Linked DNA regions of Homo sapiens: all the other regions are linked to region 1. The links come from fine-mapping of genetic effects on gene expression. A gene starts in region 1. Each other region holds a variant in brackets. All regions are shown on one strand. Distances are from middle to middle. Region 1 holds the start of PLCB3 (phospholipase C beta 3). Region 2 overlaps STIP1 (stress induced phosphoprotein 1). Region 3 overlaps MACROD1 (mono-ADP ribosylhydrolase 1).

Evidence for each region. PIP is the estimated chance that this variant, and not a neighbour inherited with it, causes the effect.
Region 2: its variant is fine-mapped to the expression of PLCB3 in whole blood (TOPMed, PIP 0.95).
Region 3: its variant is fine-mapped to the expression of PLCB3 in whole blood (INTERVAL, PIP above 0.99).

What each region holds. Positions count from the first base shown.
Region 1 is chr11:64,249,941-64,252,695 of GRCh38, forward strand. PLCB3 (phospholipase C beta 3) reads left to right here and starts at 1,590. Exons shown (of 31, transcript NM_000932.5): 1 at 1,590-1,808. The coding sequence starts at 1,710. RefSeq lists enhancers at 1-382, 1,677-2,322, 2,323-2,755 and silencers at 1,402-1,871, 2,359-2,572.
Region 2 is chr11:64,190,449-64,193,203 of GRCh38, forward strand. STIP1 (stress induced phosphoprotein 1) reads left to right here. Exons shown (of 14, transcript NM_006819.3): 2 at 2,630-2,755. Among named protein-coding and RNA genes, the nearest start is that of STIP1, 5.7 kb to the left of the region's middle. The variant A/G (reference allele first, on the strand shown) is at 1,436.
Region 3 is chr11:64,144,311-64,147,065 of GRCh38, forward strand. All of the region lies in intron 3 of MACROD1 (mono-ADP ribosylhydrolase 1), which reads right to left. Among named protein-coding and RNA genes, the nearest start is that of MACROD1, 20 kb to the right of the region's middle. RefSeq lists an enhancer at 1,657-2,158. The variant C/T (reference allele first, on the strand shown) is at 1,320.

The DNA of each region.
Region 1 (2,755 bases):
CACAAGCTGGAGGTTCCACTGCCCCAGAGCTGACCTATGCCCTTTCCTCCCTCCCTGGTATACCCACAGCTTCCAGCTACTCATGTCAATTTGGCATCTCCCACCCATTTGCTTATGTATACAACAACCTTTAGGTTCTGGACAAGGTGACTGAGGCACCTAGAGAGACTAGGTTCTGCCACTAGCAAGAGGCTGCTAGCAAGAGCCGGATTTGAACTCCAGCCTGTGAGGGCAGAGGCCAAGCTCCACCTTGCATGGTTCTGTTTTCCCAATGAGGTCTAGAGGCTCCTGGGCCTCAGGAAGTCGGAGGGTTGAAATCCTCCTAAGAAGCTGTGTGACCTTGGGCAAGTCCCTTCCCCTCTCTGGGCCTCAAGTGGAGATCATAATCACACCCCACAGGGCCAGGGCTGAGAGCGAGGAGATCCGCCAGGTTAGAGTTGATGGAGAACTTGGCGGGGTGTGGAGGAAGGCCAGGGCCAGGCAGGGCTCCTTGTGGAGGTCTCAGAGCCTGGGGCAAAGGGGCCTGCAGGGGAGCTCCTCCTTTGCTGACCCCTCCTCCCCCAGAGCCAGCTGCATCTCTTTCTGGGTTTCTAGGTGACTTGGCTGGCCCCTCTGGATGAGTTCTACTTTAAACCTGCTGCTGTTACTGCCTCTGTATTGGGGGGGCTCCCACAGGGGCCCCCAGGCAGGAACCCCCCCCACCAGCTAAGCCCTGCGGGAGGGGCTGCAGCCCCCACCCATCCCATTGCCCATGCGCCTTCCCCGCTCCCATCTCTGGAACGCAGATTTCAGGGCACCTGCTGTGGGCCAGGCACTGCAGAGCCCCTCCTCAACCCTCCTGTCTGGGGACATCCACAAAGCTTCTGACCCCTCTGGGCAGACAACAGCGTTCCCCCCGCGGTTCCCAGCCAAGAGGCTCACAGTCAGGTTCCAGTCATGGGAGTCTGCAGCAACAAGAAGGGGGCTGTTCTAGGGCTCACTCTCGAAGACCAGGATGCTTGGGTCCTTAAAGGAGGTGGCAGGCGCCCGGCCTCCCTGGGCTAGGGACGGGGGAGGGGTGCCTGCCGGCGGGAGGTCCATTAGCCGGCTAAGTGCTCCCAGGGAGGGGGGACCGCGCGGCATAAGAGTGGGTGAGGCGAAGCCAGGGCAGAGGGGGGCGGAAGAAGCTTTTCCTGCATTCAGCTAAGTGCGGCAGAAGAGGGTGGGCGACAGGGCTGTGCAGCGACCCCCCGGCCCAAGTCTAGCCCTCCGCTGGTACTGCAGCCCTAGTCGCTCGGAAACCTCAGTGGGCTGATCCCGGACCGCCTTAAGCAGCGCCCTCTACACCCAGTCCCTCCAGCTGCTCCCCAACAGCCACTTCGGCCCCCAGCGCCCTCCTTCCACCACAGGCCTGAAGAATCAGGTTCTGCTGAGCCCCGCAGCAAAGCCCCCGACCCGTCCGCGTGCCCCTGCCCCAATCCCCGCTCCGGCTGCAGTCGCCGCCCCGGCCGCCAGGGGGAGCCGACGCGGTGGGAGGGGGCGGGGCCCGGGAGGCCCCGCCCCGTCCCCGCCCCGCCCGGGCCCCGCCGAGGCTCTGGTCGGTCCGGGACAGACTGGCGGGCGGGCGGGCACTGACGCCGCGGGGCCGGAGCGGGCCGCGCGGTGGGAGCAGCGGCGCCGTCGGTCCCCGTCAGGGCTCCGTGGGTCCCCGACCCGCCCCTGGCCGGGCCATGGCGGGCGCCCAGCCCGGCGTCCACGCGCTGCAGTTGGAGCCGCCCACCGTGGTGGAGACCCTGCGGCGCGGGAGTAAGTTCATCAAATGGGACGAGGTAAGCGCGCGGGCCCCTGCTCCGCCCAAATCCCGGGACTCTTTCAGTCAAGCTCGACCAGACGCTGGGGACCCCCACCCCAGCCTCGCCTGCCCGTGGCGCCACCCTCATCCCAGTCTGGCGGCGCCCCGGAAACTTAAGTCCCCGATCGTCTCCGTAATGAAGACTTTGTCCCCCCAACTCCCAGTCCCTCAGCTCTGGAAAATTTGCCTCCACTCCTTGGCGCAGAGACTTTGAACCCCAATAAACCCCGTCCCCCCGTTTTCCATTCGTTCTTCCCACCGCTCCCTGCCAGACTAATTCTCGTTCCCCGATCCTGGCCTGGTGCCCAGACCCCTGCCCAGCACTAGACTCCCCGGCTGCAGGACCCTGACTTCCAGGCTGGCTGGGGGCATCCTCATTCTGGGTGTGTGCCAGGGCGCCCCTACTCTCCCCGGTGCCCTGCCTGAACAGTCCTCGTCCATTCATCATTTTTCCCCCTGTTCTGGTTGGCACCCCTTCGCCCTGCTTCTGGATCCCAGCCCAGCTCCCTGTTCAGATGGGAGCACCCAGTCACCCCCTAGTGGAGACTTTGCCCCCCAAGTTCCTCCACCCCTGGGAACTTTGCTCCCCACTCCTTAGGCTTGGGACCTTGAACCCCAATACATCCTGGCCCCCCTTTCCCTGTCCTGCCCCTGGTGCTTCCCAAATGCCTGTGTCCCCACCTTCGGCTGCCCATCCCCATCCTGGGTGCATCCTCTTCTGCCCCCTGGGCCCTTCCTTCCCTAGGGCCTCCACCCGGCCGGCCTGAGCTTCCTCGCAGCTCCTTCCCAGTCAGGCCACGGGCCTGGAAGACTCTGGGCTCTTTTCCGGCTGGGTGGGGCCCCGGGGTAGGCGTGGGAGCTGGGGGGAGGAGATGGGGGCGTGGCCTGAAGCGGCAGGTGTGCGAGGTGGGGTGCCTGGGGGCC
Region 2 (2,755 bases), 59 kb before region 1:
CAGGCGTGAGCCACTGCACCCGGCAGCAGCTAATTTTTGTATTTGTAGTAGAGACGGGGTTTCACCATGTTGGCCAGGCTGGTCTCGAACTCCTGACCTCAGTTAATCTACCCGCCTCAGCTTCCCAAAGTGCTGAGATTACAGCCTAAAATCATTTCTCTTGACAAAACTATTTCTTGCATCAATTTACTGGGTCGTGGGTGGATAATACATAGAATGAGTTAGTAACTTCGGTGACAACTCTATCTCACAGAACGTTTACCTCTTAAAAGTGTATTTTGGCCTGGTGTGGTGGTTCACCTTTGGGAGACTGAGGCAGGAGGGTTGCTTTAGGCCAAGAGTTTGAGACAAGCCTGGGCAATATGGTGAGACACCATTTCTACCACAAAAAGAAAAAAACATTTAGCCAGGCATGGTGACACACACTTGTAGTCCCAGCTACTTAAAAGGCTGAGTTGGCCGGGCGCAGTGGCTCATACCAGTAATCCCAGCACTTTGGGAGGCCAAGGCAGGCAGATCACCTGAGGCCAGGAGTTCAAGACCAGCCTGACCAACATGGAGAAACCCCGTCTCTACTAAAAATACAAAATTAGACGGATGTGGTAGTGCGTGTCTGTAATCCCAGCTACTCAGGAGGCTGAGGCAGGAGAATCGCTTGAACCTGGGAGGCAGAGGTTGTGGTGAGGCAAGATTGTGCTATTGCACTCCAGCCTGGGCAACCAGAGTGAAACTCTGTCTCAAAAAAAAAAAAAAAAAAGGGCTGAGTCAGGAGGATTGCTTGAGCCCAGGAGCTCAAGGTTACAGTCAGCTGTGATCATGCCACTGCACTCCAGGCTGGTAACAGAGTGAGATGCCATCTTTAAAAAAAAATAAATATGGCCAGGCGCGGTGGCTCACGCCTGTAATCCCAGCACTTTGGGAGGCTGAGATGGGTGGATTAAGAGGTCAGGAGTTCGAGACCAGCCTGGCCAACATGGTGAAACTCCATCTCTACTAAAAATACAAAAATTAGCTGGGCGTGGTGGCGGGTGACTGTAATCCCAGCTACTCAGGAGGCTGAGGCAGGAGAATCGCTTGAACCTAGGAGGCGGAGGTTGCCGTGAGGCAAGATTGTGCCACTACACTCCAGTCTGGGGACAGAGCAAGACTCTGTCTCAAAAAATAATAATAATAAATACAATGAGCTTCTCAAGGGGTTGCCTGCCCTCAGGTAGGCTGCTGTGGGGCACCTGACCTTTTGTGGGGCAGCTCAGTAAGGAGAAACCCTTTAGTGAGGACACTGTTCTGACAGGGCCAAGGCCTGCCTCACTTTTTTTTTTTTTTTAATGAAAAAGTAAAATTTAATGTGGAAAATGCAAACTTGGGGAGGGCAGAAAGATCACACACAAGGCTGTCACTTCACACTTGGAGGGTTGCACAGTGGCCCAACAGAGGC[A/G]CACCTCACTTGCCAGACGGTGGGGCAGGTGGGCAGAGGTGCTCCTCTCTCCCCAGTCAGTTGGGTGGCCGGGCAGAGGCGCTCCTCACTTCCCAGTCGGTGGGGCGGCCAGGCAGAGCTGCCTCACTTTTTAAAACTGCTGTATCCCACCGGGCGCGGTGGCTCACACCTGTAATCCCAGCACTTTGGGAGGCCAAGGCGTGTGGATCACCTGAGGTCAGGAGTTTTAAGACCAGCCTGACCAATATGGTGAAACCCCGTCTCTACTAAAATTACAAAAATTAGCCAAGTGTGGGGGTGTGCGCCTGTAGTCCCAGCTACTTGGGAGGCTGAGGCAGGAGAATCGCTTGAACCTGGGAGGCGGAGGTTGCAGTGAGCCGAGATCGTGCCACTGCACTCCAGCCTGGGTGACAGAGTGAGACTCTGTCTCAAAAAACACAACAAAACAAAACCCCGCTGTATCCTTACTTCTTGCACTTTATATGTTTGAGAAGGGAGAGGTTTAAACCACAGTAGCATTTCTTCATCCTCCATCCCCTTTGTAATGTAATATTTAAGAATGGCAGGAATCAATTTGGGGAGCTAGCTTGACTGTTACCCATTAATGAACATTTATCTATCCTGTGGTGACATGTTGCCACACCAGGAAATGGAGACTGGTTCTTCCCTGATGGGAGGAGATGACAACTATGCCATAGGCAAGCATCTTGCCGCTCCCAAGAAAGAGAAGTCTCCGCTGCCATCCCACAGCCTTTGGGTCACTGGAGCATGTATCAGTGCCACTCCGCCCACCTTCTTCCTGTGAGGGGTGACTAGGGCTGTGCTCTGTTTGTCATTTGGATGCTTTGGAAATCTGTGGCAAATGAATTGACTTTTCCATGGAAGGAGCATGTGGCACATTCTGGAGTGGCTTCGTGAGCTCCATGTGGAGACCGGAAGAGTGGCAGAGCCCTCGTTCGTCACATGGGGGCCAGCGTGGAGTGCAGCCTGGGCTCTTTGCCCCTGCTTATTTTTTCTTTGCTGGCTCCTTAGGGAAGGTGTGAGAAATTAAATAAATGAACCGGTTTTCTCTCTTCTGATCTGTAAAGTCACCTATTTATTTGTTGGTAACTACATGAAAGAATGAGTGTTGTCTTTAAAGCTTGGGATTAAATGGGCACATCATAGAGAAGCTGTGTGTTCCTTTCCCCTCAGGTCAATGAGCTGAAGGAGAAAGGCAACAAGGCCCTGAGCGTGGGTAACATCGATGATGCCTTACAGTGCTACTCCGAAGCTATTAAGCTGGATCCCCACAACCACGTGCTGTACAGCAACCGTTCT
Region 3 (2,755 bases), 110 kb before region 1:
TTCCTTTTCCATTCACATGTGTTACCCCTTATCCGGAATTAGAGACTGTGTCCTTTGCAGCCCAGGCCCACCCCACGGCGTGGTGCACAGCAGCCGTATCATCTATGTATGTTGCATGGATGAAAGTGCCTGAGTTCGAATTCTGGCTCAGTCACCTGCCGAGGTGGGGCTTGTTATCTGATCCCCGAAAATGGGGTAACAATCCTGCCTGCCTCTCGGGCCTCTGAGAGCACTGAGCACATCCAGAGTGGCCAGGGCACCGGAAAGTGGCCCGGCCCCACCTGCTCTTGGCTTCCCCGAGGAGGAGGGAGCCCGGCCCCACCTGCGCTTGGCTTCCCCGAGGAGGAGGGAGCCCAGGGCCAGGCCCATGTTGCTAACAGGTTCCAGCTGCAAAGTCTGCTGTACAGCCAGCCCTGGACTCGTCGCTGGCCCGGCCATCTCCCCTGCCCACTGCGGAGAGGTTTCTGCTGTCGTGGTGGCCGGCAAGCCTCAGCAAACACATTAAAATCTGAAGTGACAGATAAAGCGATTTACGGCGACAGTTCAGCGTCAGATCACTTCCCACAAGGCAGTCCGCATCCCTGCGGGGCCCCTGCTTGGTAGTCCATCAAGGCGGTCTCTAAATCACTGACTCCAAGCAGTGCCCAGGGACAGCCGGACGCAGGGGCGGGTGGCCGCTCAGGTGGCCACTCAGGTTCTGGCCTGCTCCTTCTCACCAGGCCAGGCTCTGCTGGGCCCTCCAGGCGGCAGGAGAGGATGAGGCAGGGGCTGCCGGTGCTTGGGAGGAGGGCGGTGATAAGCGGCCAGCAGATTCTCACAAATCAAAGCCCCAAGACTTAAGGAGATAGAGCGCCACTTCATGACTTATTTTAAATAAATAAGCGGCTTAAAAATCTCCCTGCGAGGTCGGCTTGTCGCTGTGAAACATGGCTTCCCACCCGTCCCCGCCGCACACCTGGGCCCCTCAAAGGCTAGCTGACCCGCCTCGCCTCCCGCCACCTCCTTGCAGAATTAATTGGTCCCTGCGGCGTTGCGTGGCACTTTGTTCAGACCTTGCTCCTAGCACTTTGTCACATTATACTCTGCTTAGTAGCTCTCGCTCCTGACTTCCCAGTAATCATTTCCTGGGGACTCTCCGTGTGCCAGGCCCTGGGCCCAGGGCTGGACAGGCCTGAACTCCTGTCCTCCTCACCCCTGCCCTTCGGTGGAACTGATGCTGATGCCATTTCTCAGATGAGGAAGTAGAGGCCACGGAGTGGCCAGCAGGGGTGCTGGGACCCTGACCTGCTCCTGGCCACGGTGCGCACAGCCCATGCTCA[C/T]TGCTCTGGGCTGGCATTGAAACAAAAGATCCCTTCCATCTTTGCACAAAGCCTTTCATCCATCTCTGCCCTGTCCTCTTATGACATGAAGGCCAAAGCCAGGCAGCTGGACCCCTGGGTTGGCCAAGAATGGGGATTTTTCTTTTTTTTTGAGATGGAATCTTGCTCTGTCACCCAGCAACCAGGATGGAGTGCAGTGGCACAATCTCGGCTCACCGCAACCTCCACCTCCCAGGTTCAAGCAATTCTTCTGCCGCAGCCTCCTGACTAGCTGGGACTACAGGCGCATGCCACTGTGTCCGGCTAATTTTTGTATTTTTAGTAGAGACCAGGTTTCACCATGTTGGCCAGGCTGCTCTCAAACTCCTGACCTCAAGCGATCCGCCCGCCTCGGCCTCCCAAAGTGCTAGGATAACAGGCGTGAGCCACCGTGCCTGGCCAAGAATGGGGATCTTTCTTTGTGCCCGGACATGTCCTGCCCAGGACTCTGCTATCTGTCAGGAACAAGAAGTCCACACACACAGGTCTGGTGCACCAGGAAACTCAAGGGCAGGGAGGTGGCCTAGTCAAGGTCACTGCACCCCCGTGGTAAAAAGGAGACATAAACACCCTGGCAGCCACAGCACCCCCTAGTGGATACCCTGAGACCGGCGCTCTCCCCAGACACAGGACTGAGGTCATAGGCAAGGCTGGAGAGGCAGGCACCGGCTCTGAGAACCTCCTCCTCCAGAAGAGGGGGCCTGCGGGGGCTCCCTGGCTTATCTCCTGCACATGGCAGCCCAATTTCATTAAGACGGATGCGCCATGCTCCTGTGGGCAGGAGCCGTGGCCGACACAGATGGCAGGAACCTGAGACTCTCCCGGGTGCTACCCAAGCAAGTGGCCTCAGCTGGCAGCCCACGGGGACAGGGCCCAGGGAGGCCTGCACTGTGCCTGAGGGTGTGGGGGTTTGTTCCGTCCCTGCAACTTCAAGCCCTGCCACCCGCCAGCCAGGCATCCCCACTTCTATGCTTCTGCCCAACCTCCCACCTCACTCCCACCACATCCCATACAAACACACATCACACCACACACACCCTCCATCACCCACACCCCATGCATCACACAAGCACAGACACACACACATCACGCACACACACGCATCACACACATCATACAAATGCATACGCACACCCCACACACATAGGCCAAACTCCTGACCTCACACACACACTCTATCACACACACCCCACGCATCACACAAGCACAGACACAAACATGCTACATCACAAACACACGCACCGCACACATCACACACACAGGCCAAACTCCTGACCTCACACACACACCATCACACACATCCCAATCACATCTCATAGCCCAATAATGTAAGAGTGGAAACCAGTCCTGAATTTCAAATGCCAGGAGATCAGTAGGGAAACAGAATCTGATTTTCT